2 linked regions of the Homo sapiens genome follow. The protein of the gene in region 2 purifies or fractionates together with the protein of the main gene of each other region. This does not show direct contact. Each region holds a gene or a part of one and is shown on either strand. Other genes may lie near its edges.

What was found. Proteins that work in one complex are often made in the same cells at the same time.
Region 1: the proteins of SLC25A6 (region 2) and NDUFB8 fractionate together in Homo sapiens (co-fractionation; 2 studies listed by BioGRID). This does not show direct contact.

Annotation. Positions count from the first base shown.
Region 1 is NC_000010.11:100,523,229-100,526,908, forward strand, and holds the end of NDUFB8 (NADH dehydrogenase [ubiquinone] 1 beta subcomplex subunit 8, mitochondrial isoform 1 precursor), read right to left. Parts: intron 3,327-3,680; coding exon 3,171-3,326; intron 912-3,170; coding exon of another isoform or gene 861-911; exon of another isoform or gene 702-860; coding exon 609-701; 3' UTR 512-608; downstream 1-511. UniProt on the Homo sapiens protein: Accessory subunit of the mitochondrial membrane respiratory chain NADH dehydrogenase (Complex I), that is believed not to be involved in catalysis. Complex I functions in the transfer of electrons from NADH to the respiratory chain.
Region 2 is NC_000023.11:1,389,105-1,396,621, reverse strand, and holds the start of SLC25A6 (ADP/ATP translocase 3), read left to right. Parts: upstream 1-4,612; coding exon 4,613-4,723; intron 4,724-6,894; coding exon 6,895-7,381; intron 7,382-7,517. Other genes in the region: serine/arginine repetitive matrix protein 1-like, read right to left, coding at 230-250, 1,074-1,492, 3,859-4,280, 4,391-4,614. UniProt on the Homo sapiens protein: ADP:ATP antiporter that mediates import of ADP into the mitochondrial matrix for ATP synthesis, and export of ATP out to fuel the cell.

The sequences.
Region 1 (3,680 bases), on a different chromosome or scaffold from region 2:
CTCCCAGCTCAGCCTGCTGCACAGCTGGGACCACAGGCGCGCACTGCTGTGCCCAGTGAATTTTCTGAAATTTTTTTTTGCAGAGATGGGGTCTCGTCATGTTGCCCAGGCTAGTCTCAAAGTCCTGAGCTTCAAGCAATCCTTCCACCTCAGCCTCCCAAAGTGTTGGGATAATAGGCGTGAGCTACCAGACCCAGACTAGAAAGGTTTTTTATGTGAAATAAATCTTGTTCCAACTTGGAAAGTTAGGAACATTTCTTCCTTGACCCTGTAAATGGGAAAAGGAGGGACCCTTAACACCTCCACACAGCTAAAACCCTTAAGTACCTTTACAACCCAAGTGAAATTAACAAATTAACATTTTGTGCCTAAGTCCCCATCCACCCCACCCTCTTATCCTTTAAATTTCAGAAAAAGAAAACAGGGAAGACAGCAGACATCAAGCAGAAAAAAAGGGAAAAGGATGAGGTTCCTCAAGGCAGTGACTATTCCTGGGGAAATGAGGCACAAATAACACAGCACTGAGTTTTATTAGGGATTTCATTAAGGTTAAATTTCTAGGAATGAGGGAGTCCTAGTTAGAGGACCCAAAAGCCCACGAAGCCTCCTCAGATCTCATAGTGAACCACCCGCTCTGGTTCTTTGGAGGGATCACCGCCTCGTTCCAGGTACAGATTATTGTAAGGATACTGCTTTGGTCCCTACAGAAAAAAACACAGGTCAGCAAGAACATACATTCAGTCAATACCTGGCTACACCCCACTCTGAGTTAACAATCACGCATGGTAAATGGGTACACAGTAGCCTCTGGTCAGACCCAGCTGGGCTAGGAAGGCAGGAACAGCACTCCTCTTCCTCACTCAGCCCAAGGCAGAGAGAAAGCCTAAATTGTAAGAGAAGTGGTGCCTACACTGTGAGAGAGAAGGAGAAAGGGGGAGGGAAGGGGGTTAGGGAAAGGAGGGGAAGGGAGGAAGACAGGGAGGGAGGTAAAGAAAGAGAGAAGAGTGTGTTAGAGTCAGAGGCAACACTTTCTAAATGAGACGATGCATCCATCCATCCCACTCTCTCTCGGGGTCGAGACAGACTCAATCTCCTTTAAGTCACTCAGCCTCTAATGGTTCCACCACTAAAGTGGCCCAGCAAATGAGGCGTGCAGCAGCAGTGGTGGGGGAAAGCACAGAGGAGACAAGGCTGGGACGTGCTTTAGGGGCTGCTGGCTTTACCAACAAACAGCTGTCAGAGAACACAGCTCAAGGGGAGGAGAAAAGGGTGATGTGCTTACAGAACTGAAAAATGGAAGAGCCACACTGTTCCTTGCTCTCCTGAAGTGAAGTTAGTGCTCACCCTAGCCCTACGTGCATTCTCCAGCATGGAGCCCCTGGGGCTTGGTAGGAAGGCTCGTGTCAGTGCACACAGACATACCAGCTACCTTCAGGACATTGATTGTCTCTGCAGAGGTAGCACTGGGCAGCCAACTGCAAACACAGCAGCCTCCCTGCTTTCAGCTTCTCTCCTTCCAGTACATCCTGGAGACTACTCCTGGATTAATCTTCCTAAGAACTCAGCATTCATTATGTCACTTTTCTGTTCGAAAACCCAAAATGGCTCCCTGCCACCTAGAGGCAGACCAAGTCATCACTGTATCCCCAACCGCTAGCACAGTCTGCATCTGGTACATAGTACAGGCTCCATAAATATTTGTTCAATTAATGCTTTATTACACCATCAAGTCCAAATCCCTTAGCAATGAAATAAAAGCTGCCCAACCTAACTGACCAACTTACCTCACAATATTTTTTAACACAGTGATTTCCAAATCTAGGTGCACATCAGAATTACCTGGGAGCTTGTTAAAAATACCGCTTCTGGAACCCTACTGTGATGCTACTGAATTAGGAGCACCAAGAAGTGGGGCCTGGGAATCTGGGTTTTTAGCAAGTCTCCAGGAAACCAATGCAGCCGGTTATTTAGGAACGATTCTATACCTCTATTCTACTCCAGCTAACTCACCCTCCTTTTCCTTCATTGTTTTCTTTTTTTTTTTTCGAGACAGAGTCTTGCTCTGTTGCCCAGGCTGGGGGGCAGTAGTGTGATTTCAGCTCACTGCAACCTCTGCCTCCCAAGTTCAAAGGATTCCTGTGCCCCAGCCTCCCAAGTAGCTGGGATTACAGGCACGCACCACCATGCCTGGCTAATTTTTTTGTATACTTTGTAGAGACGGGGTTTCACTATGTTGCCCAGGCTGGTCTTGAACTCCTGAGCTCAAGCAATCTGCCCACCTCAGCCTCCCAATGTGCCGGGATTACAGGCGCAAACCACCATACCTGGCCGCCTTCATTGTTTTCTCTTGCCCCAAATGTTTTCTCCAACTTCCCACCACCCAAAGCGTGTGTGTGTGTGTGTGTGTGTGTGTGTGTGTGTGTGTGTGTGTGTGTTAGCATCTAGGTAGCCCTTCTCCTTGACAGTAACTCATACCACTAAGCACATACGTGTGTGTGTGTGTGTGTGTGTGTGTGTGTGTGTGTGTGTGTGTGTGTTAGCATCTAGGTAGCCCTTCTCCTTGACAGTAACTCATACCACTAAGCACATACATTCACTATACACATATATACACATAGATTGTACAGAATTCCCATATATCTGTTCAAATGTTGCTCATGTAACTTATCTAAATTTTCTTAACTAAACTTCCTTAAAGCTAGAGAATTCATTTTCTATGTCCTTTACATTCTCCAAAATGTAAGTCTATGCCTGTAGTAGACTCTTAATTGCTTCCAATATACTACAGGACGTGCCCTTCACAAGTCCAACAAAGGATAAGATTTTCACTCAAGATTCCTTAACTCTACTGTGAAAGATCACTTAATGAAATATTGTTAATAAATATAATCCCCAAATGGCAACTCTGGTGACTAGCTGGTTTCCACACACTCATTGCTCATCTAGTCTTCAAGTGTATCTACTCACCCAGACTGGTCCAAGAAGTAGGGGTGGAGAAGTGCTGTGGTACTTGTGGCAGGCCAATGGGTCAAGGCCCTCCTATCTTCCTATCTCCTAAGACTCCAGGAAGCCAAGCTTGGTATTGACTGGATTCCTACCCCAGAGACTTCACTCCCTCAGGAAATGGGGCTAAGCAAGCGTGCCTAAGGGAGCACTTCTCGGATACTCACCACAGGCTGGTAGACAGGGTACACGTCCCCCACCCAGCACATGAATATCATGAAAGCCAGGAAACCGAAGAGCTGCATACACATGACATGCCAAGAAACAGGTGTGGGGGATGTATCCACACGGTTCCTGTTGTACATGTCTAGGTGCCAGTGCATCTGAGGCAGAAAGACAAATAGCTGTCACATACTACTCTTCCTGCAAAATGCAGGCAAGTCCCCAGTGATTAGAGCCTGATACAAGGCTAGACAGAAGCATTCTACTGCCCTGGGACAATATGCTGAGAACCAGGTCTGAGGCACACTGCCCTACAGGATTAGATGCTGGCCTCTGTCTAGGTTCTGCTGAATAGGGACAGCTCCATCATGGAAGTGCACAACTTTCACAGTACAGAGTTTCATGATTCCCAGACGTCCCATTCAGTGTGCCACATGCAATCTCAGATCTCACATCACTGGACCTTGCTTCCTTGAGCAGGAAAGCTTAGTGTTACTTGGTCAAAGAAGTGCCAT
Region 2 (7,517 bases):
TTCTTCTTGGTCCTTGGAGGGGCAGGGCAGTGAGAGACACAGCTCTACCCCCACTACCCAGCAGCTGTTGTCTCTCCCACTTCCAATTCCTGGGTGTGAGGCCCACCTGATCCTCCTTTCCCAAGGAGGCTGTGTGGCCCCAAAGGCCTCCCAGGTCATGCCCTAGTCAGGCATAGCAACTGTGTTGTTCCCTCCCAGATACGAGGGGCAAAGGAGTTAGTGTCCAAGGCTAAGTCCCACGTGCAGCACTCTGTATGGAAAAACAGCCCCAATTAGCAATTCATTCATCCATCCATCCATCCATCCATTCATCCATCCATCCATCTATTCATCCATCCATCATCCATTCATTCCAGAAGCATTTGCTGAGTGAGCACATCCATCTATCCATGCATCCATCCACCCACCCATTACCCATCCAATTATCCATCCATTCCAGAAGCATTTGCCGATCGAGCGCATCCATCCATCCATCCACCCATCCATTCCAGAATCATTTACCAAGCAAACACATCCATCTATCCATCCATCCACCCACTCATTGATTATCCATCTATCCATCCATTATCCATCCATCCATCCCAGAAGCATTTGCCAACAGAGTGCATCCATCCATCCACCCACCCACCCATTCATTATCCATCCATCCATTCATTCTAGAATCATTTGCCAAGCAAACATATCCATCTATCCATCTGTCCATCCACCCATTCATTATCCATCCACCCACTCATTATCCATCCATCCCAGAAGCATCCATTATTCATCCATCCACCCATTATCCATCATCCATCCACCCATTATCCATCCATCCATCCATCATCCATCCATCTATACATTATCCATCCATCTATCCATTATCCATCCATCCATCCATTATCCATCCATCCATCCATTATCCATCCACCCACCCATTACCCATCCAATTATCCATCCATTCCAGAAGCATTTGCCGATCGAGCACATCCATCCATCCACCCACCCATTCATTATCCATCCATCCATCATCCATCCATCCATCCATCTATCCATTATCCATCTATCCATTATCCATCCATCCGTTATCCACTCACCCATCCATCCATCCATCCCAGAAGCATTTGCCAAGCACATCCTGGGAGCCAGGCCCAAGCAGGCGGGCATCCTCCTGGCTCTGAGAGGAGCTTGAGCAGAGCCCACAGACAGCACCACCCTGCTGGCGGGTCACCAAGCCACCAAGCCAGTGCAGGCTGAAGGCTGAGCACACAGAGCACCGGTCTCAGTGTCTGGACATGGTTAGCCGTCCCCACCCGCATGGAAGGAAACTTCTTCTCTCCCCTAAGACAGGCTTTGCAGACTTGGAAAGGGAACGCCGTGTTGCAGGGCTCAGGCCTGGAGCCCCGGCCAGAGCAGATGCGAGCCAGCCTCATCTGGAAATAGCAGCTCTGGTCCCGGCCTCGCTGAGGCACTGAAAACCAGCACCAGGGCCCCGTCCAGCCCGGCCTCGCTGAGGCTGGGAAACAAACACAGGTCTGTAAGGCGCAGCTCCCCAGCAAACTCCCCACCCCTGCCCAGCACCCACAGCGCTCCTGGCCTCTGTCCTCTATTCCAGGACCCCTGTAGCGAGCCTGGCTTGGTCCTGGGTCCTCAGGGGACACTGTCCACCCCCGCTGCCCTGGCAGAGCCTCAGGAATGTGCTTGGTCTCCACAGCCCTCCCCACAGCAATGTCCCAAGGTTAGACCTACCCATGCCTCAGTGACTTCTGAGACACCCGTCCCGCCGCCCAGCAGCCACTCCAGCCTCCAGAGCTGGCCCCAACCTCCAGCCCCAGGCTGAGCCGCCCTCCCCAGAGGTCAGGAAAAGCCTCAGGCAGGGCTCACAGCTGCACCCAGGAGTCACCCAGGGTGACCCCGCTCTCTGGGGCGGGTCACTCCTGCCCACCCACAGCCGGGGACTGTCATTTTCTCAGTACACAAAGGAGAGAAAGGAAAAACAAGAGCGAGAAAGACACAGGGAGAGAAAAGGAAGAGAGAAGGAAAGAAAAAAGAAAGACACAGGGAAAGAAGAGGAAAGAAAAGAAGGGAGGAAGGAGGGAGAGTGGGAGGAGAGGGAAAGAAAGGGAGAGACAGGGAAAGGCAGGAAAGGGAGAGATGGGGAAAGGCAGGAAAGAGAGAGGCAGGGAAAGGCAGGAAAGAAAGGGAGAGACAGGGAAAGGCAGGAAACGCAAGGAAGCAATGGGAAGGGAAAGAAGTGAAAAGGAAGGCGGGGAGGGAGGGACGGGAGAAAGGGAGGAAAAGAGCAAAGGAGACAGGGAGACAGGAAAGAAAAAGGGGAGGGAGGCAAACGGGGAACGGGAGAAAAAGAAAGGAAGGGAGAGGGAATGATGGAGAAAAACAGGAGGGAGGGAGGAGAGAAGAAAAAGGAAAAGGAGGGAGGAGAGAGGAAAGAGGCAGGGAGGTAGGATAGAAAAAGACGGAGGAGAGAAGAAAAAAGAAAAGGAGGCGGGACGCAGTGGCGCACGACTGTAATCCAGCACTTTGGGAGGCCGAGGTGGGCGGATCACCTGAGGTCAGGAGTTCAAGACCAGCCTGGCCAACATGGTGAAACGCCATCTGTCCTTAAAAAAAAAAATAGCCGGGTGGGGTGGCTGGCACCTGTAATCCCAGCTACTTGGGAAGTTGAGGCACAAGAATCTCTAGAACCTGAGAGGCAGAGGTTGCAGTGAGCTGAGATCACGCCACTGCACTCCAGCCTCGGTGACAGAACAAGTCTCCATCTCAAAAAAAAAAAAGGAAAACAGGGAGAAAGGGAGAAACAGAGAGGAAGGAAAGAACAAGACAGGAAAGAATAAAAGGAAGAAGAAAAAGAGAGGCAAAGGGAGAGAGGAAAAATGAAAAAAAAATTAAAAAATGGAAAAGAGACAGCTAGGCGTGGTGGCTCACACACCTGTCATCCCAGCACTTTGGGAAGCCGAAGTGGGCGGATCCCCTGAAGTCCGGAGTTCGAGACCAGCCTGACCAACATGGCGAAACCCCGTCTCTACTAAAAATATAAAATTAGCTGGGCGCGGTGGCGCATGCCTGTCATTCCAGCTACTTGGGAGGCTGAGGCAGGAGAATCGCTTGAACCCGGGAGGCGGAGCTTGCACTCCAGCTTGGGCAACAAGAGCGAAACTCTGTCTCAAAAGAAAAAAAAAACGGAAAAGAGAGAGGGGAGAAAGGGACGAGAGGAAGGGAGACAGGAAATAAAGAGGAAAAGGAAAAGAGAGGGAAGGAGGGAAAGGCAGAAAAGGGAGGAAGGGAAGGAAAGAGGAAAAGGGAAGGAGAGACGGAAAGAGGGAGAAAAAAGAGGGAGGGAGCAAAGAAAAAACAGAGGAAGGGCGGAGGGAGAAAAGCAGAAAAAGGAAGGAAAAAAATGAAAAAGAGGGAAGAAACGTAGCAAGAAAGGAAGGAGAAAGGGAGAGAGAAATGAAAGAAAAAGGGAGGGAGGGAAACGAAGGCAGAGACGGAAAGACGGAGAAAAAGGAGGGAGGCGGGAAAGCAGCAAAAAGCAAAGGCAAGCAGGGAAGGAAGAGACGGGGAGAAAAGGGCGGGCGGGAGAGAGCCGGGAAGGGAGAGGAGGCGGGAGGAGGGAGGAGGGAGGCGGGAGGGAGGGAGGAGGGAGGCGGGAGGGAGGGAGGGAGGGAGGGAGGAAGGGCGGAGTGGGAGGTCGCGAAGGAGGACCCCGGCCGCAGCCCCCGCCGGGCAGACACGGGCACAGACACGGGGAAATAGGGGAGCCCGGGCGGGTGGGCGCGGCCCACGGAACCCCCAGCCCCGGCGCGGAGGGCACCGCGGGGTCAAAGAACGGAGGCCCAGAGAGATCCCCCCCCCACCAACCTAGGCCGGGCGCGGAGGGCGGCGCGGAGTCACGGATCGGCAGCGGGACTGAGCCGCGCCCACGTGGAAGCCGCCGCAGGCTTCGCGCGGGGCCCCCCGGGTGCACGCGGGCAGGGGCCGGGGTCTCCCGACGCACGACCCCGGAGAGTGTTGAAAGGGTCGGAGCTGCCCGGAGGTCAAGGGTCAAGGGTCGGGGGTCGGGGCACCACATGTCGCACATCCCGGCGGGGTCGCCGCGGCCTCCGGGAGAAAGCGGACGACGCACTCGGAGCGAACTGGGCATCAGGGTGGGCTTCTGACTCCGCAGCTGCCCTCCCGCCCGCTCGGGTACTGGCAGCGGCCTGACCTTCACAAGGTCAAGGCTGCCGCGGAACCCCCAGCGGCCCCTACGGCGCATGGGCGGGGCCTGGCTCCCGGCATACCTAGGGGTGCGGGGCGGGACGTCTCCGGGGAGCGCAGCCAATGGGCGCGGTTCGCTGGAGTGCGGGGCGGGACGCAGCGGGATTCCCGGCAGCCCTCAGAGGCGAGGCACGCAGGCTGGTGTGGGGCGGGGCCTGGCGGCGCAGCCAATGAGCGCGGCGCGAGGAGGCGCGGGGGCGGAGAGTGGGCGTGGCGTCGGCGTCTTAGCGGCTGCGCGGTGGCTGCTCCGTCCTTTCGGTCCAGGCGGCGGCAGGGCTGAGCCAGCGACGCCCTCCATTCACTCTCCGCGCCCGTTCTCCGGCTGTCCTCCCGTTCCGCTGCCCGCCCTGCCACCATGACGGAACAGGCCATCTCCTTCGCCAAAGACTTCTTGGCCGGAGGCATCGCCGCCGCCATCTCCAAGACGGCCGTGGCTCCGATCGAGCGGGTCAAGCTGCTGCTGCAGGTGGGGACGCGGGCGCGGCCGCTCCGGGGACTAGGGGACGGGAACCGAGTGGCCGGGTCGGGCGGGGACGTGGGCAGCAGAGCCTTGCAGGCGGGCGCCGGAAGTGGAAGGCCGCGATCGCTTTGTCCACGCGCCGCCGGCTTCCGGGGGCCGCGTCACGTGACCGCTGCTGCAGGGCGTGGCGACGTCCACGCGTGCGCACTGGGCCCGGCGGGCGGGGGGAAATGCGGCACGGATTGGAGGGCGCATGCGCGCTGAGCAGGGCCCATGGACGGACCCTGCGGCTGGCGGGCCTTGACCTTGAGCTCAATCCTGCGGGTCCCCCGGCTGGGACCAACCCTTCCGGTGGATGCCTGGCAGGTGTCTGCTCTTGCTCCCTCCACCGTGAAGGGTAATTCTAAGGCCAATAGGGCAACGAGCCTGCCCGCAGGTGTCCTGGAATAACCAGGATATGGTTATTGGTGGTTCTTACCCCCTTCTTAGCTCATTTGTGCAATTCTGATCCAGAGCAATGCATTTTTTGTCTTTTGGGAGAGGCTTATAGAAAGTAGCATGATGCCTAGGAACATTGCCGCCAGGACGTCCTTGCTAACGTTGTACTCCGAGTGACAGCTCGGTGATGGGAATGAATAGGCTTGGCTGCAAGGACAGGTCACGCCCGCGATCCCAGCGCTTTTGAGAGGCCCGGGGAGTATTGCTTGAGGCCAGGAGTTTGAGAGCAGCCGGGGCCACACAGCAAGACCTCACCTCAAAAAAAATTATTTTAACTTAACGAAGCAGGACGTCCCAGTGCATTGAGAGGCCCGGAGAGGATCGCGTGAGCTCAGGAGTTTGAGACCAGCCTGGGCAACAGAGCAAGACCGCATCTCTAAGATAATTTTTTAAACCTAGTACAGGGTGGCGTGTCCCGGGAGTTTGAGACCAGCCAGGACAACATAGCAAGACCCCATCTCTAAGAAAATTTTTAAAACTTAGCAGGCGGGGTGTCCCCGCACTTTGAGAGGCCCAGGGAGGATCGCCTGAGCTCAGGAGTTTGAGACCAGCCAGGGCAACATAGCAAGACCCCGTCTCTAAGAAAAAGTTTTAAACTTAGCAGGGCGGGGTGTCCCAGCACTCGGAGAGGCCCAGGGAGGATCGTTTGAGCCCAGGAGTTTGAGACCAGCCAGGGCAACGTAGCAAGACCCCGTCTCTAAGAAAATTTTTTAAACTTAGCAGGGCGGGGTGTCCCAGCACTTGGAGAGGCCCAGGGAGGATCGTTTGAGACCAGCCAGAGTAACATAGCAAGACCCCACATCTTAAAAAAACCTTTTTTTTTTTTTTTGAGATGGAGTCTCTCCCTGTCGCCCAGGCTGGAGTGCAGTGGCACGATCTCGGCTCACTGTAGCCTCCGCCTCCTGGGTTCACGCCATTCTGCCTCAGCCTCCCTAGCAGGCACCTGCCACCACACCTTGCTAATGTTCTGTATTTTTAGTAGAGACAGGGTTTCACCGTGTTAGGATGCTCTTGATCTCCTGACGTCGTGATCCACCCACCTCAGCCTCCCAAAGTGCTGAGATTACAGGCATGAGCCACTGTGCCCGGCTTAAAAAATTTTTTTAAACTTAGCAGGGCGGGATGTCCCAGCGCTTCAAGAGGCCCAGGGAGGATCACCTGAGCTCAGGAGTTTGAGAGCAGCTTGGTCATCGTAGCAAGACTCCATCTCTAAAAGTAATTTTTCAACTTAGTGGAGCTTGATGGTTGTGCATCTGTAGACCCGGGTACTCGGGAGACTGAGGCGGGAGGATGGCTTAATCCAGGAGTTGGAGGCTGCAGTGAGGTGAGATCGCACCACTACACTCAAACCCGGGTAACAGCATGAGACCTTGTCTTTTTAAAAAAAGAAAGAGCCGGGTGCGGTGGCTCACGAGGTCAGCAGATCGAGACCATCCTGACTAACATGGTGGAACGCTCGTCTCTACTAAATAAGCAAAAAAATTAGCCGGGCGTGGTGGTGGGCGCCTATAGTCCCAGCTACTCGGGAGGCTGAGACAGGAGAATCACTTGATCACCCCATTGCACTCCAGCTTGGGCAACAAGAGTGACTTGTGTCAAAAAAAGGATGCACCCTGTAGCTGGGATGTTTCTGGGTGGTTGGCCCTGGGTCTGGTCTGAACACCCTCTGCGTCCCCCAGGTCCAGCACGCCAGCAAGCAGATCGCCGCCGACAAGCAGTACAAGGGCATCGTGGACTGCATTGTCCGCATCCCCAAGGAGCAGGGCGTGCTGTCCTTCTGGAGGGGCAACCTTGCCAACGTCATTCGCTACTTCCCCACTCAAGCCCTCAACTTCGCCTTCAAGGATAAGTACAAGCAGATCTTCCTGGGGGGCGTGGACAAGCACACGCAGTTCTGGAGGTACTTTGCGGGCAACCTGGCCTCCGGCGGTGCGGCCGGCGCGACCTCCCTCTGCTTCGTGTACCCGCTGGATTTCGCCAGAACCCGCCTGGCAGCGGACGTGGGAAAGTCAGGCACAGAGCGCGAGTTCCGAGGCCTGGGAGACTGCCTGGTGAAGATCACCAAGTCCGACGGCATCCGGGGCCTGTACCAGGGCTTCAGTGTCTCCGTGCAGGGCATCATCATCTACCGGGCGGCCTACTTCGGCGTGTACGATACGGCCAAGGGTACGTGTGGCTGCCATCGCGAAGTCCCAGAGACGGGCTCAACACACAGACGTTCCCCCAGGGTCCTGTGGGCTGAAGGTCTGAGATAAGGTGTGGGCAGGGCTGGTTCCTCCTGCGGCCTCTCTCCTGGACTTGG